Homo sapiens: one gene and its partners. The protein of the gene in region 2 interacts with the protein of the main gene of each other region in a pairwise test. Each region holds a gene or a part of one and is shown on either strand. Other genes may lie near its edges. The genes, in order: KYNU, PIP4K2B and TRPV2.

Region 1 (10,374 bases), on a different chromosome or scaffold from region 2:
CTGCTAGGGCAGTGCAAAGGCGAAATGTGGAGTTGGAGCCCCCACATGGAGTTCCCACTGGGGAACTGCCTAGTGGAGCTGTGAGAAGAGGACCACCATCTTCCAGACCCCAGAATGGGAGATCCACTGACAGCTTGTACCATGCACCTCGAATTGCTGCAGACTCGCAATGCCAGCCTGGGAAAGCAGCTGGGAGGGGAACTGTACACTGCAAAGCCACAGGGTTGGAGCTGCCCAATACTATGGGAGCCCCCCTCTGGCATCAGCTTGACCCAAATGTGAGACATGGAATCAAAGAAGATAATTTTGGAGCTCTAAGATTTAATGACTGCCCTGTTGAATTTCAAAATTGCATGGGGCCTCCGGCCCCTTTGTTTTGGCCAATTTCTCCCATTTAAAATGGGAGCACTTATCCAATGCCTGTACCCCCATTGTATCCTGGAAATAACTAACTTGGTTTTGATTTTACAGGCTCATAGGCAGAAGGATCTTGCCTTGTCTCAGATGACACTTTGGACTTGGACTTTTGAGTTCATGCTGGAACAAGTTAAGACTTTGGGGGACAGTTGCGAAGGCATGATTTTGAAAAGTGAAGACCAGAGATTTGGTCAGGTGTGGAATAATATGGTTTGTCTTTGTGTCCCCATTCAAATCTTATCTTGAATTATAATACCCACATGTCAAGGGAGAGGCCTAGTGGAAAGTGATTGGATCATGGAGATGATTTCCCCCATGCTGTTCTTGTGATAGTGAGTTCTCACAAGAGCTGAAGGTTTTGTAGGGTCTCTTCTCCCTTTACTTTTCCTTTCTTCTCTCTCCTGCCACCTTGTGAAGAAGGCGCCTGCTTCACCTTCTGCCATAATTGTAAGTTTCCTGAGGCCTCCCCAGCCATGCAGAACTGTGAGTCAATTAAATCTCTTTTGTTTATAAATTACCCAGTCTCAGGTATTTTTCATAGCAGTGTGAGAATGGACTAATACAAAGGCAGAAGGGATTGTTTCCAACATCAGAATATATGGTGAAAAATATTACATACAAGGTGTTATTGAAGTCATAAATTTTGAGGCAGGTGACATAAATTCTCACCGAAGTCATCACTGTTCATTGTTTTTATTAAATTTTCCAACATTAACAAAAATAGAGAGAATTCCACATATTATTCACCCAGTTTTCAAATTTATCAAGATTTTTTCATACTATTTTTTTCTTCTTCCCTCCTACCTCTCCTCTCCTCTCCTCCCTTTCCTTCCTTCCTTCCTTCCTTCCTTCCTTCCTTCCTTCCTTCCTTCCTTCCTGTGGTAAGATGACTAATGACCCTCAAAGATGTCCATGTCCTAATCCTTAGAGGTATGAATATTTTACATTATATGGCAAAGAGGAATTGTGATTGTAGATGGAATTAGGTCACTAATCAATTGACCTTAACATAGGGAGATAATCCTTGATTGTCCAGTTGGCCTCAATAGACTCAAAAAGGCTCTTAAAAGTGGAAGACAGAAGAAAAGGAATAGTTAGAGAAAGATGTAAGGATGAAAGAATAGGTAGAGAGATGAAACGTTGCTGTCTTTAAAGATGGACCTTAAGCCAAGGATTGTGGGAAGCCTCTAGAATCTAAAAAAAGTAAGAAAACAGAGTTCCCCCTGGAACCTCCAGAAAGAAACGTCACCCTGCCAAGGCCTTGCTTTTGATCTCATGAGACCCATGTTGAACTTCTAACCTATGGAACTGTAAGATAATAAATGTGGGTTATTTTCAGTCACTATGTTTTTTGGTCATTTGTTATAGCAGCCATAGAAGAATACTACACCTTTTTAGTTTGTCATCGTTCTTTTTTATAATTTTGCAGAGGAATTTTAAGGCAAATTCCAGATTTTGTATTATTTCACTCCTATGTACTTGGTATATATATATAGAAATATGAATAGCTTCTTACTCCCACAATACTATTATCACAGCTAACAAATTAGATAAAAATACATTTCTCATTCAAATTTCCTCAATTCTCACAACAATGTCTTTTTATAGTTGGTCTTTGAATGAAGATCCCAACCAAGTCCACACATTGCATTTGTTTATTATATCTCTTCAGTCTCATAATTCAGGGTAGTGCCTTCTCCCTACCTGCCTCCTATTGTATTCATGCCACTGACATGTTGAATAAATCCAATCAGCAGCTATGTTGCATGCCCTGTATTTGACTCTTTATGGTATCATTTAATTGCCCCTCTATTCTTCATACTTTTTATAAACTGGAAGGTAGCTTTAGGGCTATTTTGATTGGACTTGGTTTCTTATTTCCTGACTGTACTGCAGAGTGGTGCAGTCTACTTCATATTCATCACATTGAGCACATAATTACATGTTGTTCCATTTTTAGTGGTATCAGTATTGATCAATGAAGTTCATAACAACGTGATGCCTCCACTATATATTAATAGTTTTCACTAACTTTTCCTTTAATGTTTTATCTTTGCCTGAATCTGTTATCCTAAGTATTGAAAAATGATTATATTCGATTTTCTTCATCAAATATTATCTGTAATTTCCTATAAAGAATAATTTTCCAAAGTAGAGTATTTATAATATGCTCTATATTATATATGAGAAAAGAGAGAATTGTGAATTGCCTTTATAGCTCTATTATGTAAAAAAAGTAATAGAAAGATAAAGTGAAACTTGGGGAAATACTTATACATAGTAAGAGGGAATAAACTGAAGAATTGGAGATATTGTAGAATCTAAAATTTAAAAAGAAAATTTATAAAAATTAAATGAAAAATTTCAAAATACTGAAACAATGTATCCAATTGGTGGTTGTAAGGACATAGGGAAAAAACCAGTGTTATTTCTACTCTCTCACTCAAGAATCAACATAAAATGCTTTACCTCTGGTCACCAAAATGTGTATAGGGATTTCTCCTCACCAGCAAGCAATTCTGCATTGAACGCAAGCTAGGTATCCTCTAATTGAATTCAATTCTGACATGATATACCTGGAGATATCATTCAACCCCACAGGTTAAGGGCTCAGTTCCACAAGACTGCCCCCACAACCCCACTTCCAACGCTAATGGCAAGTCCCTGGCTTTTTACCTACTAGCTATAAATTAGTATATTAATCCGTTTTCCCACTGCTGATAAAGACATTCCCAAGATTGGGCAATTTACAAAAGAAAGAGGTTTAATGGACTCACAGTTCCACATGGCCAGGGAGGCCTCATAATCATGGCAGAGGTGAAAGGCACATCGCACATGATGGCAGACAAGAGAAGAACTTGGGCAGGGAAACTCCCCTTTATAAAACCATCAGATCTCATGAGACTTACTCACCATCATGAGAACAGCACAGAAAAGACCTGCCCTCATGATTCAATTACCTCCCACCGGGTACCTCTCCAAACACATAGAAATTCAAGATGAGATTTGACTGCGGACAAAGTCAAACCATATCATTCTGCCCCTGGCCCCTCTTAAATGTTCTCACATTTCAAAACCAATCATGTCTTCGCAACAGTCACCCAAAGTCTTAACTCATTTCAGCATTAACTCAAAAGTCCGCAGTCCAAAGTCTCATCAGAGACAAAGCTTAAAGATGGACCTTAAGCCAAGGATTGTGGGAAGCCTCTAGAATCCAGAAAAGGTAAGAAAACAGAGTTCTCCCTGGAGCCTCCAGAAAGAAACATCGCCCTTCCACCTATGGGCCTGTAAAATCAAAAGCAAGTTAGTTACTTCCTAGATACAATGGGGATACAGGCATTGGGTAAATACAGCCACTCCAAATGGGAGGCATTGGCCAAAACGAAGGGGCTACAGGCCCCATGAAAGTCTGAAATCCAGTGGGGCAGTCAAATCTTAAAGCTCCAAAATGATCTCCTTTGACTCCATGTCTCACATCCAGGTCACACTGATGCAAGAGGTGGTCTCCCACAGCCTTGAGCAGGTCCGCCCCTGTGGCTTTGCAGGGTATAGCCCCCTCCTGGCTGCTTTAACAGGCTGGAATTGTCTGCAGCTTTTCCAGGTGCGTGGTGGATTTACCATCCTGAGTTCTGGAGGACAGTGGCCCTCTTCTCAAAGCTCCACTAGGTGGTGCCTCAGTAGGGACTCTGTATGGGGGCTCCCACCATACTTTTCCCTTCTTCACTGCCCTAGCAGAGGTTCTCCATGAGGGCCTTGCCCCTGCAGCAAACTTCTGCCTGGGCATCCAGGCATTTCCATACATCCTCTGAAATCTTGGTGTAAGTTCCCAAACCTCAGTTCTTGACTTCTGTGAACCCAGGCTCAACACCATATGGAAGCTGCCAAGACTTGGGGCTTCCACCCTCTGAAGCCACAGCCCAAGCTGTACCTTGGCCCCTTTTAGTCATGGATGGAGCTGCTGGGACACAGGGCACCAAGTCCCTAGACTGCACACAGCAGAGGGACCCTGTGACCAGCCCACGAAGCCATTTTTCCTTCTAAAGCTCCTGGTCTGTGATGGGAGGGGCTGCCACAAAGGTCTCTGACATGCCCTGGAGACATTTTCCTCATTGTCTTAGTGATTAACATTCAGCTTCTTGTTACTTATGTAAATGTCTGCAGCCAGCTTAAATTTCTCCTCAGAAAATTGGTTTTCCTTTTCTACTGCATTGTCAGGCTGAAAATTTTCTGAACTTTTATGCTGTATTTCCCTTTTAAAACTGAATGCCTTTAATAGCAACCAAGTCACCTCTTGAATGCTTTGCTGCATAAAAATTTCTTCCTCCAGATACCCTAAATAATCTGTCTCAAGTTTAATGTCCCACAAATCTCTAGGGCAGGGGCAAAATGCCTCCAGTCTCTTTGCTTTATGTCTAAAACATAACAAGAGTCACCTTTGCTCCAGTTCCCAAGAAGTTCCTTATCTTTGTCTGAGACCACCTCAGCCTGGACTTCATTGTTCATATTATTATCAGCATTTTGGTTAAAGCCATTCAACAAGTCTCTAGGGAGTTCCAAATTTCCCACACTTTCCTGTCTTCTTATGAGCCCTCCAAACCATTCCAACCTCTGCCTGTTACCCAGTTTAAAGTTGCTTCCACATATTCGGGTACCTTTTCAGCAGTGCCCCTCTCTACTGGTGCCAACTTACTATATTAGTCAGTTTTCAGGCTGCTGATAAAGACATACCTGAGACTGGGCAATTTACAAAAGTAAGACCCAATTCCACATGGCGGGGGAGGCCTCACAATCAGGGCAGAAGTTGAAAGGCATGTCTCAAATGGCACAGACAGGACAAGAGCCTTTGCAGGGAAACTCCACATTATGAAACCAACAGATCTCATGAAACTTATTCATTATCATGAGAACATCATGGGAAAGTCCTGCCCCCATGATTCAATTACCTCTTACCAGGTCCTTCCCACAAAGATAAAACTACAAAATCAAACAAGTTAAATAAAACATCTTATTATCCCAGACAAAATTGAAAATACCACTATGAAATAAAAATATAATTTATATTTTTAAAATATGTATTTTCTTTTAACTAAAAAATCCTAGAAACATGATCAGCTCAATTAAAATGAGCACTCTTCCTGTTAAGATTCTGGTTTATAAAGAAGGTTTTTCTCTGAAAAGAACTGTATAGTCTTAGATAAATAAATAACAAGTTTGAAGTTGGAAATATGTAATATAAGCCTACCTGTTTTTATACTAAAGGCTATGAAGTTATCAAAAATAGATAGGGTCATGTCAAAAGGACTCAAGAACCATCTTAAACAATCAAAAGTTGAAAAACTAGAGAATTAGTCAAAACAATTACTGCAATAAACCAAAACCACATCAGATCTATTTACATCCACTACTTCACAATGACCTCCATTATTATTGTGTTATTTGAGACTAAATCTTGCTGAAATTAAAAATAAAATTATTAGTGGGAAGAGAACATAGAGCATATCATACACACAGTGCACATGCTAATGGCCCACAGAAGCATCACATCCATAATCTCAGTAACAAGGTACCCTAATACTTTGATTCCCAGGTTGTGCTTTATTGATGTGATATTTCCAGGCTGTTTGAAGGTTTCTTTCTTGAAGTGGTGCAAAAATCCATTTACTTAAAAAAATCAATGTTCTAACAACTTCAGTTTATGGAGAAAATACACTATATAATTTAAATGTGAACCCATATAGTTTTGAACTCAAGAATAAGTAGAAAGTTATTGAGCATAAAATAGCTGTAGAAAAGTTTATTTAATTTGAAATTAATTTACTGACTTCACACCCAGTCTTTCTTCAGTCTGTTTTTTAATAAGTTAAAGCAACATGAAATAAATATAATTAGTTTTAAAAAAACAGCCCTATATATTGTAATAGCCCCAGAAGATCACTATAAAAGAATTGACATTCATATAAATTTGCATGACTGGATGAAGAAAATGTGGTATATATACACCATGGAATACTACGTAGCCATAGTATTGAGGAATGAGATCATGTCCTTTGCAGGGACGTGGATGAAGCTGGAAGCTATCATCCTCAGCAAATTAACACAGGAACAGAAAACCAAACATCGCGTGTTCTCACTCATAAGTGGGAGGCGAGAATACATGGACACAGAGAGGGGAACAACACACACCAGGGCCTGCTGGGGGGTGGGAGGTGAGGGGAGGGAACTTAGAGGACGGGTCAATAGGTGCAGCAAACCACCATGGCACACGTATACCTATGTAACAAACCTGCAGGTTCTGCACATGTATCCTGGTTTTCTTTAGAAGAAATTTTTAAAAAATACAATTGCTTCAAATATTTATTATATTTATATTATTTAAATATATATTTAATTATCATGTTTACATAAAATAGATTTTACATAAAATAGATTTTATACTGTATTATATATTTCATATTTTATATGTTTTTATTTTATATAAATATATGTTTATATATTATATATATATTCAGGTAAATCCTACTTATGTGATTGGAAAAAAACCGAAAACAAGAATTTAAAGTGTTCTTCTCATTGATTCTCTGCAACTGACAGAAGCAAACATAAAAACTCTGGAAAATCAGACTTAACTCAGTTTTCAAAGAATTCAAAAGGTCAAGGTAAATGAGCAGTTCGAAGCTATCAATCACAAAACTACAAAGGAAACAAGGCATCATATGTGAACTCCAACAGAAACAACTGTACATTCATTATATATTAGATATGGACTATCAACTAGTTGTGATTAAGAATAAAGAAAATGCTGACTTAGATCAGGTTCCCGTGACACCGTGCTTGAGATTGGGATTTGGATGACTATGTTTTATTGAAGGAGTGCTCATCAGGGAAACCTGTAACAGAGGAAGTGAAGGGGATCACCAAAAGAGCTGGGCAAGGGATGGTCTCAGGAAACTTCTAGTCATGGTCTAATCCACAGAGAAGGGGTGGCTTCTGAAGCATAAACTGTAGTGTGAAGATTATCCTTCTCCTGACTGATACAAAGTGTAAGTTTTTCATATTTTCATTTTTTTTTCCAATCCTTTATAGTGTGTGGCCTGACCCCAAAGTTTGAGGAGGGAGGTAGCTAAAAGCGTTGGTGGCAGCCACCAGGCAAAACAGCTGATGCAGGGAAGCTCAATGGGGAACCAGAATGTCCACTACTAATGCCTAAAGCAGAAGCACATTCGAAAGATCACAAATGGAAGGAATTTTGAACAGAAATCTAATGAAACTTTTAGAAACTAAAATATATGTTTTAGAATTCTTAAGAATGCAGCCCAGAAATTCAAAGAAATAGAAAATATGAAGTTAAAGGCATAAAGGAGAGAGTGAAAAATTCTAACATATACCCTTTTATTTTAAAAAGGAAATAATAGAAAGAGGTAATAATTGAATAAATAAATAATACTTCTGAATTTTCTAGAAATTAAAAAATTAATCCTCAAATCTTGGATAGACAGCAAATAAAGAAATAGAATAAACACAATAATAACTGCCTAGACACATCATAATAAAAATGCGGATCATTAAAGACAAAGAGCCCTTAAGAGCAATGGTTGAACTAATTTACATTCCCACTAACAGTGTAAAAGCATTCTTATTTCTCCACAGCCTCACCAGCATCTATTGTTTCCTGACTTTTTAATGATTGCCATTCTGACTGGCATGAGATGGCATCTCATTGTGGTTCTGATTTGCATTTCTCTGATGATCTGAATGCTTAACAGCAGTAATGGAAGCCAAAATACTGTAACTTAATATTTTCTACTTCCTGAAAGAAAATTACTGTCGACATAGAATTCTATATGAAGTGAAACTATTTTTAAGTAATGAGAAAATGGTATCAATAAATGTTTTTTCCCAAAGACTAATACAATTTACCACTAAAAGTTTTTCATTAAAATGAATTGTAATAAATTATATATGTACTTCATCCATAAATAAAATTCTGAATTGTAGGGAGAAATAGCAAACATTAGTGAGAGAGAGAGAGACAGAGAGAGAGAGAGAGAAAGAGGAGGGAGGAAGCTAGACTAAAAATGCTATAATGAATAGCAATAGTGTATAAGTAAAGAGTTGGCTGTTTGATGTTAAAGCATTCTCATTTCTTCAACTAGTCAGAAGGAGAGTTATAAAAAATGGCTAATTCTAAACTTCATTATATTTGCATGTTAAAATAGCCAGAGTAATTGCTAAAATAACAAAGAATAAGTGTATAATTTCCACACAAATAGAAAGAAAAAACGGACTCAATACACCTCCACACACACATCCCTAAATCCAAAAGAAGAAAAACAGAGGAAAATAAATAAAAATCAAAAAGAAAATGAGGGGCTGGGTTTGGTGGCTCACACGTAATCCCAGCATTTTGGAAGGTCAAAGTGGGCGGATCACCTGAAGTCAGGAGTTTGATACCAGCCTAGCCAACATGGTGAAATCCTGTCTCTATGAAAAATACAAAAATTAGCTGGGCATAGTGGCCCATGCCTGTAATCCCAGCTACTTGGGAGGCTGAGGCATGAAAATTGCTTGAACCCGCAGTGAGCTGAGATCGTGCCACTATACTCCAGCCTGGGTGACAGAGAGAGACTGCCTCAAAAAAAAAAAAAAAAAAAAAAAAAAGAGGTCCAGGAGTGGCAGCTTATGCCTGTAATGGGAGGCTGAGGAGGGAGGACTGCTTGAGGCCAGGAGTTTGAGATTAGCCTGGGCAACATAGCAAGACTCTGAATCTACAAAAAAAATTATTTTTAAAAATTAGCTTGGCATCGTGGCATGTGCCTGTAGTCCCAGCTGCTTGGGAAACGGGGGACAGAGGATCACTCAAGTGTTTGAGTTGGAGGTTGCAGTGAGCTATGATCATGTGCCACTGCACTCCGCCTGGGCAACAGAGTGACACCCTGTGAGAAAGAAAGAAAGAAAGAAAGAGAGAAAGAGAAAGAGAGAGAAAGAAAGAGAACAAGGAAAGAAGGAAGGAAGGAAGGGAGAAAAATGTGCTCATTTGCATAAAATTTCCCATATTAAAAATAGATACCAATTGAATTCATGTATATACAGTATCAATTATCAGTTAAATGTTAAATTTTATAAAAGATAACACATGGGGCTGGTGCAATGCCTCATGCGTATAATCCGAATATGGGAAGCTGAGGCAGGAAGATTGCTTGGGGCCAGGAGTTTGAGACCAGCCTGGGAAATGTAGCAAAACACTGTTTCTACAACTTTTTTTAACTTAACACTTAAAAATGAGCCAGGCATTGTGGCACATGCCTGTAGTCCTAGCTACTCCACAGGCTGACGTGGGAGGATCACTTGAGCCCAGGAGGTTGAGACTGCAGTGAGCTATAATCACATCAGTACACTCCAGCCTGGGTGACAGAGGGAGACCCTGTCTTTTAAAACAACAACAAAAAAGATAATGTGGAATGACAATAAAATTAGAAGTACTTAGGAATTTGTCAAACTATAAATGTGCGTTTCCATAATAGAGAAAATAAAAAATTTTGAGAAGCATTAAAGAAATCATAAATAAATGAAAATAAATGCCATGGTCTTGGGTAGGAAGGCTCACTATTGAGTCAATTCTTCCAAAACTGATCTAAAATTTAATTGCAGTTCAATTGAAATCCCAACAGGGGTTTTATGGAACACAATAGATTTATTCTAAATTTATTTAGATGTATTCAAAAATATAAAAAAAGTAGGGGGCCCAGGATAACCAGGACAATTCAGGGCAATCTTAATAAAAAGAAGCTGAGAGATTTAATCTAGCAGATGCCAGGCCCTGCTATGTTGTAGTAATTAAGGAAGTGAAGTATTGATGAAAAAACAAGCAAATTAGCCAGTGTGAAAGTACAGATAGCCCAGAAAGACATCCATATATATATTGCTTTCATATATCTACATATCTATATTTATATAGAT
Region 2 (10,746 bases):
AAAAAAAAAAGAAGAAGAAGAAAGAAAGAGCTAAAACTCTAGTTGGGAGGATTGCTTCAGGCCAGAAGTTTGAGAACATCCTGGGCAATACAGAGAAACCCCAATTCATTAAAAAAAAAAAAAAAAAAAAAAAGAGCTAGAACTATAAAACTTTTAGAAGAAAACAAAGGAGTAAATCTTCATGACCTTGGGTTAGGCAATGTCTTCTTAGATATAACACCAAAAGCACACACAACAACAACAAAAAAGATAAACTGGACTTTATTAAAGTTAAAAACTTGAACTTCAAAAGATACCATAAGAAAAATGAAAAAGGCAGGCCAGGTGCAGTGGCTCACGCCTGTAATCCCACCACTTTGGGAGGCCGAGGCGGGGGGATTGCTTGAGGCCAGGAGTTCGAGACCAGTCTGGCCAACATGGCAAAACCCTGTCTCTACTAAAAATACAAAAATTAGCCTGGTGTGGTGGCGGGCACCTGTAATCCCAGTTACTCAGGAGGCTGAGGCAGGAGAATCGCTTGAACCCGGGAGGCAGAGGTTGCAGTGAGCCAAGATCACACCGTTGCACTCCAGCCAGGGCGACAGAGCAAAACTCCATCTCAAAAAAAAAAAAAAAAAAAAAAAAAGAAAAATGAAAAAGACAACTCAATGAATAGGATAAAATATTTGCAAATCATATATCTGATAAGGGACCTGTATCTAGAATATAAAAAGAATTCTTGTAACTCAATAATAAGAAGATAACCCAATTTAATAATGGGCAAAAAGATCTTTGTAAATGGGCAAAAAATTTAATAGACATTCTCCAAAGAAAAGATACCAATGAAGGCTGGGGATGTGGCTCATGCCTGCAATCCCAGTCCTTTGGGAGGCCAAGGCGGGAGGACCACTTGAGGCCAGGAGTTCAGGACCAGCCTCGGCAACAAAGCGAGACCCTGTCTCTACAACAACAACAAAAAGAAAATGTACAGGCCAGGCACAGTGGCTCACACCTGTAATCCCAGCACTCTGGGAAGCCAAGGCAGGTGGATCACCTGAGGTTAGGAGTTTGAGATCAGCCTGGACAACATGGTAAAACTCCATATCTACTAAGAATACAAAAGTTAGCTGGGTGTGGTGGCAGGCACCTGTAATCCGAGGTACTTGGGAGGCTGAGGCAGGAGAATCGCTTGAACCAAGGAGGCGGAGGTTACAGTGAACTGAGATTGTGGCACTAAACTCCAGCCTGGGCGACAGAGCAAGACTCTGTCTCAAGAAAAAAAAAAAAAGAAAAGAATATGTACAAATGGCCAGTAAGTACATGAAAAAATGCTCAACATCATTAGTTATCACAGAAATGCCAATCAAAGTCACAATGAGGCCGGGTGCGATGGCTCATGCCTGTAATCCCAGCACTTTGGGAGGCCGAGGCAGGTGGATCACCTGAGGTCAGGAGTTTGAGACAAGCCTGGCCGACATGGTGAAACCTTGTCTCTACTAAAATAAAAAAATTAGCCACGTGTGGTGGCAGGCATCTGTAATCCCAGCTACTGAGGAGGCTGAAGCAGGAGAATTGCTTGAACCCGGGAGGTGGAGGTTGCGGTGAGCCGAGATTGCACCACTGCACTCCAGCCTGGGTGACGGAGTGAGACTCCATCACAAAAACAAACAAACAAACAAAATCACAATGAGATACGAATTCACACCCAACAGAATGGCTTTAATAACTTTAAAAAGACAATAACAAGTGTTGACAAGGATGCAGATACTGGAACTCTTATACACTGCTGGTAGACATGTAAAATGGTACAGCCACTTTAGAGAACAGTTTGGCAGTTTCTCAAATGGTTAAATACAGAGTCACCATCAACTGCTCCTGCTCCTCTGATCCCTGTGGTAAGGCTTCACACATACCTGGTTCTTAAAATGGCCAACAAGTATCAAGTCAGGTCTACCTCCCATGGTCTCCATGCTCCTCTCTGAGGCCATCTCTTCCCTAATTCCAAACCCTCGGAACTGTATTTCATCCACTAAAACACTGGTTTTTGCTCTTCACTAGTTCTTCCCTGACAGGTGCAAAGTCTTCTGATTTTTCTCCTTGTTTCCTACACATTCTTCCTCCACAAAATCCATGGGCTCTTGTCCATGAGAGCAGCTCCTGTGACAACACCAAGTTCAAAGTCCTCTCTTTTTCCACCTAGAAGTAAACTAATCACCTCATGAAAGGGTAACTAACTTCTGCTGTAGATAAAGACATATCCATCCTTCCTATCTGAAACACCATTAGCCACAGACCAGCATGCCTAAATGCCTAAACAGGTGAGAAACTAAAGAAAAGGTGGTATCTGAAATCTCAGATGACAAAATGTTACAAAGTAGGCTTTTTTTGAAGGGAGGAAATCTCCAAAAAAGTGCAGCAGTCCACCGAGGGCAATGTGGTCCTGATCCCTTAGACGAGTGCAAGATTACACTCTTCTTCTAGGCAGATGTCTCAGTTCCCAAATGGGGACACTGAAGTATCAGACCTTACTGCAGACCAGGATGAAGCAATAAAACTTACGACTAACTGGCCTCTGAAGCTTAGCCTGTCCAGGGCAGTGGTGGGAAGTTCCCATGAGATGCCTGTTCATTATGTCCAGAGGCACGGATCTTGCTTAAAGTCAATGCCTTTCCAACTAGCCCCTCAAACAAACTTTCAACTTAAAGTTAGCAAAGAAAAAAGATGACCACTTTGTCCAACAGAGTAGGACTCACAGGACTCCTGACTCGTGATACCTAACCATCAGCTATTGAGAAACTTCATAACCACATATGGACAGACTCATGCCTGCCTATCGGAACACCATGCATCACACACACTCCCAGGACCTGACATGCATAGGCGTATAACCCAGAGCATATATTCACCTTCTCTAACCGGACTATACTTCGCATCTATCCTGAGACTTGGCTGAGGGAGAGGAAAAGAAACAGGAGGCAAAGAAAACAAGACCAGCCACTCAGGCACCACCCTTGGCCGATACAGTCCCATGGTGCTAGACAATAAGCGACATCTCTTGCTGTAACCACAGGCAAGCTAATCCTCCACCTGAGGCCTCCTTTTCTTCATGTGTAAAATAAGGGACCCAAGGTTCATTGCAGCTAGCTGTAATACTCCTGACTCTCAGGCCTCTACCAGTTCTCTACAGACAGGTTGCTTTCTGTGAGAAACAGAACCAGCAGAGAGAGGCCTGGTAGAGTGAGAAGCAGGATGCAGAACAAAATCAAGGATTGACTTCCAGAAAGGGACATGGGGTTCATATTCTGATCACCCAGTTTCCCTAGAAATGTTGTCAGATGACCCCTGGGACAGCAGGAAGACCGAGTAACAAACTGGGCTGGATTGTTGGCCCGAAGCAGCTCCTAGAGGTCTGGGCATTATACCACTGGTACTCGCTATCCTGGCAGGACCCTCACTAACACCAGTGATGACAGTGAAAACAGTAACCTGCCCAAGACCAAGAAACCACAGAGACCTCAATTTACACATGCACTTTCCTAAATGACAGGTCAAGATCTAAAACCCTAGCTCAGATTACGGTTCATCGATCTCCACCCAAAGGCACCTTCAGCTCCTCTGCCAAAGCAATGCAAAGTCTTGCTGGCCCTCTTTGTCATCGCTTGGTCTTGTGAGCAATTTCAAGCACTCACAAGTGAACCTAAAGAACTGAAATCCACAGGAAACCCAAGCTTGATCCTCCTTATTCCAAAATTCTAGTTAGTGAAGTTGGTGTTTCGGGTCCTTTTACTTCCTCTGCTCATTCCTAGTGTGGGGATTCATAAAGAAATGGTCAGAAGGCAAAGAGCAAGTGGTTGGAAGAGGGAGAATAAAGACCCTGAACAAACACCACATAAACAGTCTTCCAGCTTAAACTGTCAGGATCCAACTTCCTGGCAGGGGCTGTTGAACAATCTCAAAGCACCCTAAGGACCCAGGGGACCTATCTCTCCTATCTAGGACCATAATCACTATGCATCATCACAACATTGCAGCCACACAACAGATAAGTCAACATCTTTAAAATGATCACCTTCAAAAACTATGGGAAGACATATTATTTCTACTATGAATAGTCCCTCCTTATAACCAGGCATCCTCTTCTCTCAAATGGTTAATAGCCATTCTTTCTTCTCCCTAACCCAGAGAGACCCAGGTGAAGTGTCTGGTTCAAGGAAGCCTGTGCTTCTCCAGTTGATACATCTTGTTCAAGAGGGAAAAAAAAGGAAACCCAGGGTGGAGTTCTACATTCAAAGGTAAGGAGGCCTGGAGGATGGAAGAATTTGAGCAGCCACAACAACCAAACGATCAGAAAGAGAGGACTATTTGGGCAGACCACTGCTACTTGACAGAGCTGGCAGCCGGCTGTAAGGAACAAGGGGGAATATACACCCTCACAAACAGGATGAGGGGGGAGGAGGAGAAGCAGGGATGAAAGCGACTCCACTGCACTGAGGCCTTGCCTTTGCGCTCCATGGGCTGCCCCAAGCGAGCACGCCACACGCAGGAAGCCAGAAGGGCTGGAGGGAAGGGGAGGTGGCGACGGCAGACCACAGAGACACCAGGCCTCGCGTGGCGTGCGGGGAGTGCACACGGGGCCGAAAGGCGTGCAAGGGTGGGGTGGGCGTGCAAGTGGCTTGGCGAGGGGTGGCAGGCGTCACCGGCAGGGCCTGCGGGGCAAGGGCCCAGGGCTGCAGGGGGCGTGGGAGCGCGCGGGGCCGCGCTCAGAGGGGCGCGCAGGAGCTGGTTACCGTGTGGTTCACCCCCCACATCAGGACGCTGAGGATCGGCTCGCTGGCCCGGAATAGCTTCACTTTCTGGCACACGAAATGCTTCTTCTTGGTCTTGGTCTTGCTGGCGCTGAGCGGCGCCACCGCCACCGCCGTGGTGCTGGTGCAGTTGGACGACATGCCCGGGGCGGCGGCGGCGGCGGCGAAAGAGGGGGGCGGCGGAGACAGCGCACAAGCCAGCGGCCTCAGGCCTCCCCCGGACCGATCCCCACCCCCGCTCCCTCACCGCGCCATGGTCGCGCCCGTCCCGTTACCTCCCACCCCGCCCCGGTGGTTCCGTCCGCCCCACGCCCCGCCCTCCCGCCCCGCCCCGGGGAGCCCGCCGGCCCGCTCCGCACCCCGCCCCCGGGCGGTGCAGCCGCCCTGCAGTCCCCTGGCCCCGTCCTCCCCGTCCGCGTGGTACGGCCCGTCCCGGGGAGGCAGCGGCCGCCCCGCCCGCCCCTCCTCCCCGGGCCTGACAGAAACCCGCCTGGCCTCCGAACGCCTCGGGGCCCCGTGCCGGAGCCGGAAGGGGAGGAGGGCTGGGCAGGCGTCGCTGTGGACCGCGGGAGGGGCTCCCCGCCCGGGCCCCCCAACGCCAGGGTTTGGCTCTTTCCCGCAACCCGAATGCCAAGATGGCGGCGATGCCACCGCTCCGGAAGGGAAGGAGGGACGGGAATGCGAGGAGGGCGGGACGTACCATGCCCACCCCGGGGGAGAGGAGGGACGCAGCAAGGGGAAGAGAAAGTCCAGCCTAGAAAGCCAAGGAACGCCCCCTCGCTCCACCTAAGCGTGGATCTGCCCACTCTGCTGGGCCCCGGGCGCGCTCCACCCGCGGGGCACGCCCCTTGCCCCCAGGGCCAATGAGAGAAGCAGGCCAGGAACACTGGTTTTTATGAATGGGCCCCGCGCCCACCCACCTGCTGCCTGTTCTCCCCGCAAAGGGTCAGAGCTCAGAGGCCGCCAGCACCTTCAGACACCTATCCCACTAATCGTCTTACTCTGGCTCATTTCGTAAAATCTTTGAGTAAACTGCCCCACGCTTTGTTACATAATTCTCAGATGAGGGATCTCCATATATTCGACACAAATTACAGGTCAACGTTGTTCTTTCTGCATGGAAATTCGTAAACACGGTACTCCACAGGTGGTCGCTCTTTAAACAGTTACAAAAATAAATGTGGCCTTTATTACCAATTATAAAATAAACATAATTAACCCCGGCATAATGAAGTGATTAAATGAATAAAAACGTATGTTACATTCTCTAGGGAAAGATCGGGTTTCAAGCATTACAGTGCCTGGCATCATAAGTGTTCAAAAACAGAAATCCAAATACATTTTAAGCAGAATTAGGAATTAGCAGAACAAGGAAATCGCCCAGCTAATGTGCGGGTCAAGAGGGCCTAGGAGTTCACTGGTCAAATGAGGGCTTCTGGTGAAAGAATAGAGAAGGGAAAAGGAGTAAAGACAGGAGAGTGGCCCCTCGAGGGTTTTGTTTTGTTGCTGTTGTTTTTTGAGACGGAATCTCGCTCTGTCACCCAGGCTGGAGTGCGGTGGCACAATCTCGGCTCACTGCAAGCTCCGCCTCCTGGGTTCACGCCATTCTCCTGCCTCAGCCTCCCGAGTAGCTGGGACTACAGGCGCCCGCCACCACGCCCGGCTAATTTTTTGTATTTTTTTAGTAGAGACGGGGTTTCACCGTGTTCGCCAGGATGGTCTCGATCTCCTGACCTCGTGATCCGCCCACCTCAGCCTCCCAAAGTGCTGAGATTACAGGTGTGAGCCACCGCGCCCAGCCTGTTTTTTGTTTTTTTTTTAGTACCTGACTGAAAGAGACTAGCAAACAACTCCTGAAAATCTGTAATTGTAGTAAGGTTACTACACGGTAAGAAGTGAAGCCGCAAAATAAAAACTTCCATTTTATTTTCCTTTAGGAGCCATGGAGCATATTGGCAATTTGGTTCTGACTCCTAAAATCATTTTACTATACCTTTACACTGCCTACATTGGAGACTGCAAGCAGTGGAAAAGAATAGATACTCCAGATCTCGTCGATAAACCCAGGCTCCTCCTAAACCAGCCAGATTCAGAGAGAAAAACGAGCTGGCCTGCCTTATTGTATTACTTGCCATCAAGGTTCAATGTGGTTCTATTACCCAGTAAAGTCATTGACCAAACAAGGTATTTTCACAAAGCTAACCTTTTTTAAAAGCATGTAAAAATTGTACATTTGTACATATACGCATTACAATTTTACATCCAAAGATCAAATAGTTAACAGTTCATTTAGGGCTTTTTGTATTGTTTGATTTTCCAGATTCTGTCACTCCCTTGGCTTTGACCTAACCTGACATCATTCTGTCACATTATCTTCTAAATCAAGTAAACGTTCATTTGTCTCAGTAAGCACAATCTATCTGGGTGACACCAGAGAGGTTTCTGAAGGGTCTGGTGTACGCTGAGGCAGTGAAATAGGTCTGTTGGCACAGGTAAGAAGGAAGTGGCATGATAAACATCACAACCCCAGGGAACAGCCTTCCAGAGTGGCACAAGCACTCCCACCGAGATGGTCCAGTGCCCACCCGTTAAAGAGTCAAAACCCAAAGTTACTGAGTGTCCCACAAAGCAAGTCACACTAGCTCTCAAAGGAAGTGAGCTGTTTCAGGACTCAATGAAGCAGGGTCACTTTGAACACTGGTGGTTTGACATCTGTGAAAGAAGTCATTTGAACTCTTATAAAGAGAATTAAGGGGTCAGCAGCTTCCCTGGAAAATGCAGGAAAACCAATAAGAGAGGGGACAGTTTTCATCTTTTCATAAAGTTCTTCTCCAGAGCTACCGAAGTTCTCTGTAAAGAGTAGATATTCCGCTTCACCCGATCCTCCAGGGAGGAAGTAGATGCACTCTCCAGCTTCATGCGGCTAGGAAGAGAAGACAGGCAAATGCAAGTCAAAAACATTTTCAATCAGTCAACTATTCTGGCAGCTTCAGAAGAAATGGGTTGTTAGCCATAGAGCAGCTGTAAAAACACAACCTCTTTTAAGCTCCCATAGATAACTTTCGAGTGACTCCACCTGGAACCAAATGTTTTTAAACCAGTGTCCATAAGGGAAAATGTATCTGTTTTGGAAAATAAGTCAAAGCCTCATTGGAAAAAGGCTTCCTGGGCCATGAATTCTTATTAAAAAGGAAGGTCAAGGAATTTCAATGATTTAGAAAATACCAAATTCACTTCTCCTCCCCTCAAATGAAAAACATCCCACTGTGTGGTCAGAAAGGAAGAGTAGTAGCCAAGGTGGTCTGAAGGCTGGGCTCCATGTGCAAACACAGAAACACTGGAACGGGAACCAGCTGCCAGCCTGCCTCTTAAGACCTTCCCCATGAAAGACCCTGGCAGGAAGAAGATGCACTCACTGGATGAACTTCCCATCCCGGGAGTCCAGCTTCTCTAGCCTCTGCTCCCGTTCCTCATCCTTAGCATGCCTCTTGAGGATGTTCAGTCTCTCCTCCTCCCTCCATTTGGCGTTTTCCATCATCTCTTGCCGTTTTCGCTCTAATTCCTCTGCAGAGAGTTTTCTGTTGAGCACAGAAACCATACGATCAGGTCTCTTCCAGCAAAAAAACCAGAAGCAGCACAAGAAGCACAGAAGCCAGGTGGGACCCCAAGCTCTCCAGTTCACTGCTCTCTCCAAGTGCAAGGCCAGCCTGAGTTCCCTTCTAACGTCCTGGTCAGGAGGTTTCATCCAAATTTCAAAGGCTTTTAGTAAAGTATTCCATAATCTCACTCAGTAATCTCTAGAGTGATTATTCTGAAATATGAAATATGAAATAAATTGGGAACTCATCAGGAACCTAAACTTGTAGCAATTATATCCCAATGGTTTGCTCAACAATTGACAGAAGAACAGAAGACTAGGTTATCCATGTAACTGTTAACATCTACCATCTAACTACCCATTGGAGACTAGAAATTCATGACACAGCCCATGAGTACACTACTTTAGGACTAAGCTAGAAGCCAGAAGCTGAAGGAATAACTTAGCCTCAGAAAATAATAAATAGGGCCAGGCATGGTGGCTCACGCCTGTAATCCCAGCACTTTGGGAGGCCAAGGCGGGCAGATCACCTGACGTCAGGAGTTCGAGACCAGCCTGGCCAACATGGGGAAACCCTGTCTCTACTAAAATTACAAAAATAAGCTGGGTGTGGTGGTGTGTGCCTGTAATCCCAGCTACTTGGGAGGCTGAGGCAGGAGAATCGCTTGAACCGAGGAGGCGGAGGTTGCAGTGAGCCAAGATCGCACCACTGCACTCCAGCCTGGGTGACAGAGTGAGTCTCTGTCTCAAAAAAAAATAAAAACCTCCAAACGAAAAACAATTTACTATTAAAAATCTGCTTCAGATAATAAATGAAAGATATTAGAGCATTCAAATGAGAGTAGGAGGCTTAAAAAAAAAAAACAAAAACGATTGCCAGGCACAGTGGCTCTAGCCCGTAATCCCAGCACTTTGGGAGGCTTAGGCAGGAGGATTGCTTGAGTCCAAGAGTTCAAGACCAGCCTAGGCAACAAAGTGAGACCTCCCATCTCTGCAAAAAAAAAATTTTTTTTTAATTAGTTGGGCATGGTGGCACCCGTGTAGCCCCAACTATTTGGAAGGCTGAGGTAGGAGGATCAGTTGAACCTGGGAGTGTGAGGCTGCAGTAAGCCATGATCGCCCCACTGCACTCCAACCTAGGCAACAGAGTGAGACCTTGTAGGGAGAAGAAAGAAGTTATCAAAGAAATAATACAAGAAAATTTCCTAGAACTCAAAGACATGGTTTAGATTGCAGGAAGCAAATACTGACACTAGGAAAAAATATACAAATCATACAAGAAAGGAAATGTAACCTCCATATTCTGCTTGGCTTAGGAATGAAAAGTATCAGTAAACAATATTTATATATCATACAAGTATGAATCCACATACTCACTGAACCAAAAATTCTGATGTAACCATATTGGAAAGATAGGGATAGAAGAAACATGGGACTAGGAGTGTATGAGAGCTCATTTACACTAACAGATTATTTACTATAACAGTAAGAAAATATCTAAGATCTGGCCGGGCACGGTGGCTCACACCTGTAATCCTAACACTTTGGGAGGCCAAGGCAGGTGGATTGCCTGAGCTCAGGAGTTCCAGACCAGCCTGGACAACACATTGAAACCCCATCTATATTAAAAATACAAAAATTAGGGCCAGGTGCTGTGGCTCATGCCTGTAATCCGAACACTTTGGGAGGCTGAGGCGGGCAGATCACCTGACCTCAGGAGTTCAAGACCAGCCTGACCAATATGGTGAAACCCCATCTCTACTAAAATATACAAAAATTAGCTGGGCATGGTGGCATGCGCCTGTAGTCCCAGCTACTCGGGAGGCTGAGGCAGGAGAATCGCTGGAACCCGGGAGGCAGAGGTTGCAGTGAGCCGAGATCGTGCCACTGCGCTGCAGCCTGGGCGACAGAGCGAGACAAAAAAAAAAAAAAAAAAAAAGGAAGCCCGGGCGTGGTGGCTCACGCCTGTAATCCCAGCACTCTGGGAGGCCGAGGCAGGCAGATCACCTGAGGTTGGGAGTTCGAGACCAGCCTGACCAACATGGAGAAAGCCTGTCTCTACTAAAAATACAAAAATTAGCTGGGTGTGGTGGCACATGCCTGTAATCCCAGCTACCTAGGAGGCTGAGGCAGGAGAATCACTTGGGCCCAGGAGGCGGAAGTTGTGGTGAGCCGAGATTGGGCCATTGCACTCCAGCCTGGGCAACAAGAATGAAACTCCATCTCAGAAAAAAAAAAAAAAAATTAGCTGGGCGTGACAACATGTGCCTGTAGTCCCAGCTACTCGGGAGGCTGGGACAGGAGAATCACTTGAACCCCGGAGGCAGAGGTTGTAGTGAGCCAAGATTGTGGCACTGCACTCCA
Region 3 (8,307 bases), about 22 Mb from region 2:
GCCCTCTAGACAGGCTTCCCGGGAACATCTCCCCAGAGACCACAGAAGCTCGAGCTCTTTATTTGCTCTTGCCCCCCAGCTACTACTCCCAGATTCCTAGAGAGCCTACCTCCATAACAACGGGAATGAAAAGGTCACACCTTATGTGCGCCAGGCCCTTAAGGAGTCGGAATATCCCAATCCTCACAAAAGGAGGGGGACGCTGGCAAAGACTCATGGGAACTTTCCGCCAAGTAACGATTTAGACCGGCGCGCTACCCAGGACTCCCCCTCCTGTTGAGTCTATGGTCTCTTCCACAGCCCCGGGAATTCTGGGTCACAACACGCGCGGGGAGTTCCAGGGCGCCTGCGCGAGGGCTGGATCGCGCGTTTGGGCCCCACCTCCGCCACTCCTTAGCTGGGTGGTCTTGGGCCAATTACTCATTCTCTTTAAGCTTCCGATTGGTCCTCTAGTAAACGGAGACACCAGCGCCCCAGAAGATCACGTGAGATGACACACGTGAAAGCCTGTAGAGCTGTGGCACAAGGCAGCCATTCATCCTAGTAGCTCCTCCTGAATCTATTGAGCGTTGCCAAATACTCTCCCCACAGCTATTTCACCACATCCACGGGGCTTCTCAAACCCCTGCGCACTGGTCACCCTCATTACTCCTTTAGCACGACCTTTAGGGAACGAGCTGACGTCTTATCTAGATCCACGTCCATCCTCTGCTCGCCTCTGGGGTAAAGCTCTGCCCACCTCCTTTCCTCTCCTCATTCCTTGGGGCCTCCTCCACCTATGCCCCTGCCTCACCTTCCATGGAAAACTCTCTCTACTGTGGCTTTCCTTTCAGCCTATGAACATGCTCAGCTCTCTCCTTGAAAAAGAATCCATGCAACCACGTTTTGCACACACACGTTATACCAAGGGAAAGAAATTCATTTTGACTGCAAAAAACTGGGAAGACAATCATAAGACCTTTTGAGCTGGCCTCAGAAATAAGTGTAGGGTTTTTGTTGTTGTTGTTGTTGTTGCTCGTTTTTGTGTTTTTTTGAGACGGAATTTCGCTCCTGTTGCCCAGGCTGGACTGCAATGGCGCGATCTCCGCTCACCGCAACCTCTGCCTCCCGGGTTCAAGCGATTCTTCTGCCTCAGCCTCCCGAGTAGCTGGGATTACAGGCATGCGCCACCACGCCCGGCTAATTTTGTATTTTTAGTAGAGACGGGGTTTCTCCATGTTGGTCAGGCTGGTTTCGAACTCCTGAACTCAGGTGATCCGCCCGCCTGGGCCTCCCAGAGTGCTGGGATTACAGGCGCCCGGCAAGTGTAGGGTTTTATTTTATTATTATACTTTAAGTTCTAGGGTACATGTGCACAACGTGCAGGTTTGTTACATATGTATACATGTGCCATGTTGGTATGCTGCACCCATTAACTCATCATTTACATTAGGTATATCTCCTAATGCTATCCCTCCCCCCACCCCCAAGTGTAGGGTTTTAATGGAGGAGGGGGGCTTCCAGCAAGAGCCAGGTCAAGGGATCAAGCACGAGGTCTCTCGGCCTGCATGAATTTGGGGAGAGTGCTAAGGAGGGAGGGGCAACAGAGGTGGAGGGGAGGAGGTGTCTGGAACTGCTTGGGCAAAACCGTGGGGGTCTCGGGATGTCAGCTAGGGCATTCTGTGGGTACTGGGGAGCCTCTCAGGCCTTCAGAGCACAAAGAGGACATGTTTGTCTTATGTCTTAGGAAGGCCCTCTGGCTGCCCTGCAGAGAATGGCTTGGGAGGGGTGGGAATTGAGCAAGAAGCTCGGTAGGAAGAGAAAGCAAGAGAGGTGGCTTTAATGGGTTTTCCCAGGTACCTGCCCAAAAGCAGGGTGGGTGTGGAAAGCAAAGGGTGTCGTGGTGGAGAGAGAGGAGAGGTGGCTGTTTGCCCATGTCCATCACCATATATCTGCCACAACAATGGGCACAGCACCTCAGCCAGCTGCCTGTACCCAGGAAGAGGACAGTCCCCAGACTTGGGGATGTGGGGGTGAGGGTGGGGACACAGCAACTGAGGGTCTCTGTGCCCAGGCAAGGGCAGGAGCAACCTAGTCCCATACACAGACCTGTGCACACAGAGACATGCAGACATTGCCAGCTCTAAGGGTCCCAGCAACTCTGCCCAAATAATGTTTCCAGAAGAGTTAGTTAGTGAAAATATATATTTGCCACCAGAATTCACTGGGACCCCAGAGCCAGCAGATGTGGTTGGAAAGATCCTCTGCTCTGTCCTCTGGCCTCCTGCTGCATCTGGGCCATCAGTTGGACTGGAGGAGCTGGACGGGCACATAGTTTTCCTCAGAGGCACCATCCTCATCCTCCTTGGGAGGGGAAGCCAGGACAGGGTTCTCGAGAGTTCCTGTAAACAGATGGCAAGCACTGTAGCTTAACCCTTGAGTGTGTCCCCAGGAAGCAGGCACCAGGGAAACGGGGCCACAGTCATGAAAACACGTCATGCCGTGGGGACAGCCTCAGCGATCCTGGAGGCCAGCAATCCTTCTCCCTGCTTCCCTCACTCCACAAGCATTTCCCAATCCCCTGCCATATCAGGGGCTTCCCCCTGCCCCTGCCACCCCCAGGAGCTTAAAGTGCCTGGAGGTGACAGACTTGTGTGTCAGAGATCAGAACACCTGAGACATGCTGGGGGAGCTCAGAGGAGAGAGGGGACCTGTCCTGCAGGGGCGGTGGCAGATTTGGACATCCAGAGGGGAGGAAGAGCACTTCCGACAGAGACGAATCCAGAGATGAACCAAGGAAAGCAAAGAACAAGGAGTACTGCAGACATGTGGATGGAGGTGTGGGGAGTGAGTTAGACAGCTTTGGGCCCTGACCTCCATTCTGAGCAGTGCGGCCTTCCAGGTAGTGGGAGGCATTGTGTAGCGTGGGCTGCATGTGGTTTTTGTCCACATTAGCAGGACTGCAATGGGTAAGAGTGCAGGCTGGGCCCCCCTGCAGTGGTGCAGAAGTAAGAGGCAGGGCAGGGCAGAGGGATGAGTGGCCGCCTGAGGGGTCAAGGACACTCAGCTCCAGGTGGGAGAGCTGGTATAGCGGGGGGAATAGGCTGAGACTCTCAAGGCCTTCCACCTGGGTGAGGAGGGGGTGGGGTGACATACATGTGACCTGCTGGGGCAGCCCCGAGGCTGTTCCTGTTGGGAATGTCACATTGGAGGCCCCAGCAGGCAGTGGGGTGTGGAGTGCTTGGGGCAAGATGAGGGAGGGACAAGGTGACTTTCAGAGGTGACTTTCCTGGCATTGTAGTGAAGAGAGGGAGATGCAAAGAGAAGGTGAAGGGAAACCTATCTGTATGTGAGGCAGTGGTCACGGCCCAGGAGCCTGGGAAACCAGCAGGCTGTGGGGCAGAAGAGGCCAGAGGAGCCTCCCTACAACAGGGGCCATGGGAGACTCAGGAGGCTATTGTGGGGGGCAACAGGCACAAGCAAGTGAAATTTGTCAGGAAAGAGATGGAGAAAGGAGAGGAGGTGAACCAGTGGAAGGTGGGAGCTATTGAAGGTTCTAGAAAGAAAGGGTATGCAGTGGGGACAGCTAATCCTCAGAACAGGCCTCTGAGGGTGGGAGGAAGGAACCAGTCTTGGTGGAGGCAGCAGGGTGGGGACAGGAGGGGCCATCACTACACTGGAACGGAGAGGACACAGGCCACGGACATGGAGGAAGCATGGGAAGTGGTTTCTCAGAGGTGGGGGACTTGGGGTGTGAAGGGACTAAGGGCCTATGCAGGGCAGTTCCTCTGAGGGTCCAGGGAGATGCTGCCTCTGTTGTAGGCTGCGCTGTGACACAGCCCTTCCTAACTTATTCCCCTGCTGAGTCCCCAGGCTCAGCCCAGGCCTGGCTGGGGACAGACCCTCGATAACCAATTGAATGGGCAAAGGGTGTGACTGACTGGCATCAGAGAGAGGGCAGCCAGAGGCTGGGCTGGTGGAAGCGCTAACAGCCTCAGAGGTTTCCCCTGGTTCCTGCCTGAAAGCAAGGTGTGGGTGGAAAGGAAAGGAGGGAACCACTGTTTTAAGGAGGCAATCCCTCTAAGAGGAGCTGGCATGTGGGGATCTGCAAAGGGACTATGAGGAGGTCTCTGGGTCCTGCCCCAGACTCTCCAAGGCTTTGTGGCCAAGCAGCAGAGACACACACCCCAGGGCAGAGGCTCTAGTCACCAGGCTACTCACGAGGGACACCTGCCCCTGACGGGTCCTCACACAGCGTAGGCAGCGTCTGCTCCCATGAAGCCCAGTTCACCTCCTCCACCCTGAGGGCAACAGAGCAGCTCTGAGGTTTGCCTGCTTTGACCGCCTCCCCTCCCACCCCGGAGAGGGGCGTGGCCCCCCAAATTGGGAGACTATGCAGAGATGCTCTGGTGGACACAGAGGCCCTGAGGAGGACAGGCTTTTTCTCTGCAGGGTTCTGGGCCACCCACTTGGAGCCCTGTCCTGTGAGGCAGGTGCTCACTTGCAGGAATCAGCATCCATCGCTTCTGGCTGTTCACAGCAGCCTGGGTTGCCCAGAACAACCAGAGAAGAGGAATTCAGATCAGGTGTATCTGTGCTTCCGGGTTCTGGGGCCTATCATGGCTGCTCCTCATGCCCAAGACTCCGTCTCTCTGCTCATCTGCTGCCTCACGACAGTGTCTGTTTTTTTTGTTGCTGTTGTTTTCTTTTTTTTTTTTTTTTTGAGATGGAGTCTCGCTCTGTCGCCCAGGCTGGAGTGCAGTGGTGCGATCTCAGCTCACTGCAAGCTCCGCCTCCCAGGTTCATGCCATTCTCCTGCGTCGGCCTCCTGAGTAGCTGGGACTACAGGCGCCCGCCACCACGCCCGGCTACTTTTTTGTATTTTTAGTAGAGATGGGGTTTCACTGTGTTAGCCAGGATGGTCTCGATCTCCTGACCTCGTGATTTGCCCGCCTCGGCCTCCCAAAGTGCTGGGATTACAGGCATGAGCCACTGCACCCGGCCGACAGTGTCTGTTTTTAGCTGTGTGTTTGTCACTAGGTTCCCTCTCCCAGTGTCCCAGCCTTTCCTGGACACAGAAGGGCATGTTCTCCATGGAAGGGGTTGTAGCTCAGAGATCAGGCTGGCAGAATTGGGGGTGGGGGGACACAGAGCAGCCAGGGCAATGCTAGAGTGCTAGCAACCCAAGGGTCCCTCTGACTTCTTGGCCTCCTTACCGTAACACATTTCAGGCTACAAGGAGGAGTCTGAGATCACCAGGAGGGGACCTTCAGTTTAAGCCACTGGGACAGGCAGATGGCCAGTCATGTGGCAGCCATGGCTTGTGAGATCCAGACCCCTGACCTCACCTGCTCAGGCTCAGTCCCTGGTGCTCTTTGGGCCTGCCCTTCCCACCAGACCTGGCTCCTGGCAGCTGTGCCCTGCACTGCAGGGGGGCCCCAGGGATTGCTGGACAGCAAGGCCCCCAGGAGACCCTCCCACCACTCACTCACCTGAAGCACCAGCGCTCATCGGGGCTGCCATCTGGCTTAGTGCCAACGGTCAGCATCACACCTGCCCGCTGCTTCTTCCTGCACCACCAATAGCCATTCTCCATCTCCAGGACAGAGATGGCTTTCTGGGGACAAAGGATGCATCAGACAGAACGTCCTGGGACCCTGCCTGGGGGCAAAGGCACACAAGGCAAGCGGAGCAGGGAAGTGCCGCGCAGCACTTCACAGTATAACGCGAAGTCAACTAAACACGCGGATTCGAATCTGGCTCCAACATCCGGTTACCTGTGTGGGGTTGGGCCCTCAGCCTCTCTGCATCTCAGTTTCCCCATTTGTAGACTGAGGACAAAGTGCCTCAGACAGCTGATGGGAAGTCTGTACCTTATGAGTACTGGACAGCTACTTGCTCTTACATCGTTCCAGGCTCCAGATTGCCACACCACCAGGAACAGAACTTCATTTGCTCACCCCACACATGTGCCTGCCCAGAGGCACACCAGTGAGTCAGGTGGGGCACAGAACCTTGCAGAGGAGGGCACCAAGGCTCAGAGGAGATAAGGGGCTTCCCCAAGATCAACAATGAATTGGCAGCAGGGTGGGGCATGGTGGCTCATGCCTGTAATGCCAGCACTTTGGGAGGCCGAGGCAGGTGTATCACCTGAGGTCAGGAGTTCAAGACCAGCTTGACCAACATGGTGAAACCTTATCTCTACTAAATACAAAAAATTAGTGGGGTGTGGTGGCACATGCCTGTAATCCTAGGTACTTGGGAGGCTGAGGCAGGAGAATCGCTTGAACCCAGGAGACAAAGGTGGCAGTGAGCCAAGATTGCACCATTGCACTCCAGCCCGGGCAACAAGAGCAAAACTCTTGACTCAAAAAAAAAAAAAAAAGAAACACTGGACAGCAATGATGATAAGAGTAGCTGGTAGCACATTGAGCACCTGCTTGGTGCTGGGCACTGTCCTAAGTACATCTATGAGCTTAAAGGAGGTGGGAGTAATCTCAGCACTTTGGGAGGCAAAGGTGGGAGGATCACCTGAGGCCGGGGCAACATAGTGAGACCTTCTTCTCTACAAAAAATAAAAATATTAGCCAAGTGTGGTGGCAGGTGCCTGTAACCCCAGCTACTCAGGAGGCTGAGGAAGGAGGATCACTTGAGCTCAGGAGGCCGAGGCTGCATTGAGCTGTGATCGTGCCACTGCACTCCAGCCTGGGTGACAGAGCAAGACCTTGTCTCCAGAAAAAAAAAAAAAAAAGGAAGAGGAAGACTGACAAGGTAGAGCTGCCCAACCCGGCATCTCCTGGCTAGGGAAGGCCCAGCTCCGCAGGGTCCGGAGCACTCCCCACCGCCTGAGTGTGGGGTGGGGTGGGGGCAGGGAGCCTCTCTGGTGGCACCTGCAGCTTCCAGATGCTCCAGCTGTCAGTGGCGACACTGTTGACGGTCTCGCTCATGAGGGCGATGAGCATGTTGAGCAGCAGGATGTAGGTGAGCAGCACGTAGGCCAGCAGCAGCAGCAGCACCATGCCGCGGAAGTGCAGCTGCTCCTGGAAGGCCAGCTCGCCCATGCCGATGGTGAATTTGAAGAGCTCCAAGGAGGCTTCCAGGATACCCCTGTACTGGGCCCCGTTGCCCTCGTCCTCCTGTCCCTCCATGGGCTGCACTGACTCTGTGGCATTGGGGCCTGTAGGAGCTTCGGGGCGCCAAGCCTCCTGGCTCAGGCTCACCAGGGCTATGGGATGAAGGGAGAGGGGTCCTTAGCCCAGGAGACCGGTGGGCAGCCTTGGGAGTGTACAGGGTGGACAAGGAACGTGGGGAAGGGGGAGGGGGCCGGAGGGAGCCTTTACCTACAGCGAAGCCGAAAAGGAAGACTAAGTAGATCAGAAGGAAGCGCAGCAGGTCCCGCAGGATGACCTGGAACACATGTGCCCAGGGGCCAGGGTGGGTAGCTGGGCCACCAGTCACGACCCCAGAACCCTGCCTCACCCACAGCAGCATGGTTCCCGTGTACACTGCACATACGCACACATACATATGCATATGTGGGCCTGTGGAGCCACACCGAGCAGAGGAGTCTTTTAAAAATATATCTCAGATCTGGCTGGGTGCGGTGGCTCATGCCTATAATCCTAGCACTTTGGGAGGCTGAGGCGGGCAGATTACCTGAGGTTGGGAGTTCAAGACCAGCCTGGCCAACATGGTGAAACCGCGTTTCTACTAAAAATACAAAAAATTAGCCAGGTGCAGTGGTGTGCCTGTGCTTGTAATCCCAGCTACTCAGGAGGCTGAGGCAGGAGAATCACTTGAACCCAGGAGGCAGAGGTTGTGGTGAGCCGAGATCACACCACTGCACTCCAGCCTGGGCTACAGAGTGAGACTTCGTCTCAAAAAAAAAAAAAAAAAAAATATGTATATATATATATATATATATATATATATATGTCTCAGATCACATTGTTTTCCTGCTTAAAACTTTCCAGTAGCTGGGCATGGTGGCACAAGCCTACAGTGCCAGCTACTCAGGAGGCTGAGACAGGAGGATTGCTTGAGCCCAGAATGTCAAGGCGGCAATGAGCTATGATCGTGTCACCGCACTCCAGCCTGGGTGACTGAATGAGTCCCATCTCAAAAAACAAAAAACAAAAAACAAAAAAAAAAAACCTTCCAGGGTCACAAAATAAAATATAGAACTACTGTATGACCCAGCAATTCCACTTCTGGGTATGTATATGCCCAAAAGAATTGAAAGCAGGGACTCTAACAGATACTTTTACACCCTTGTTCGTAGCAGCATTATTCACAATGGTCAAAAGGTGGAAGCAACAGGTGACTGGA

The links.
Region 1: the proteins of PIP4K2B (region 2) and KYNU interact in binary tests that used the Homo sapiens proteins (3 or more experiments, as listed by UniProt).
Region 3: the proteins of PIP4K2B (region 2) and TRPV2 interact in a protein complementation assay, tested with the Homo sapiens proteins (one study listed by IntAct).

Annotation. Positions count from the first base shown.
Region 1 is NC_000002.12:143,046,554-143,056,927, reverse strand, and holds the end of KYNU (kynureninase), read right to left. Parts: 3' UTR 1,095-10,374; downstream 1-1,094. UniProt on the Homo sapiens protein: Catalyzes the cleavage of L-kynurenine (L-Kyn) and L-3-hydroxykynurenine (L-3OHKyn) into anthranilic acid (AA) and 3-hydroxyanthranilic acid (3-OHAA), respectively. Has a preference for the L-3-hydroxy form. Also has cysteine-conjugate-beta-lyase activity.
Region 2 is NC_000017.11:38,794,500-38,805,245, forward strand, and holds the start of PIP4K2B (phosphatidylinositol 5-phosphate 4-kinase type-2 beta), read right to left. Parts: upstream 5,058-10,746; 5' UTR 4,926-5,057; coding exon 4,767-4,925; intron 1-4,766. Other genes in the region: pre-mRNA-splicing factor CWC25 homolog, read right to left, coding at 7,593-7,707, 8,201-8,362. UniProt on the Homo sapiens protein: Participates in the biosynthesis of phosphatidylinositol 4,5-bisphosphate. Preferentially utilizes GTP, rather than ATP, for PI(5)P phosphorylation and its activity reflects changes in direct proportion to the physiological GTP concentration.
Region 3 is NC_000017.11:16,430,863-16,439,169, reverse strand, and holds the end of TRPV2 (transient receptor potential cation channel subfamily V member 2), read right to left. Parts: intron 7,387-8,307; coding exon 7,320-7,386; intron 7,205-7,319; coding exon 6,870-7,204; intron 5,597-6,869; coding exon 5,472-5,596; intron 4,281-5,471; coding exon 4,201-4,280; coding exon of another isoform or gene 4,193-4,200; exon of another isoform or gene 4,189-4,192; intron 2,382-4,188; coding exon 2,281-2,381; 3' UTR 2,167-2,280; downstream 1-2,166. UniProt on the Homo sapiens protein: Calcium-permeable, non-selective cation channel with an outward rectification. Seems to be regulated, at least in part, by IGF1, PDGF and neuropeptide head activator. May transduce physical stimuli in mast cells.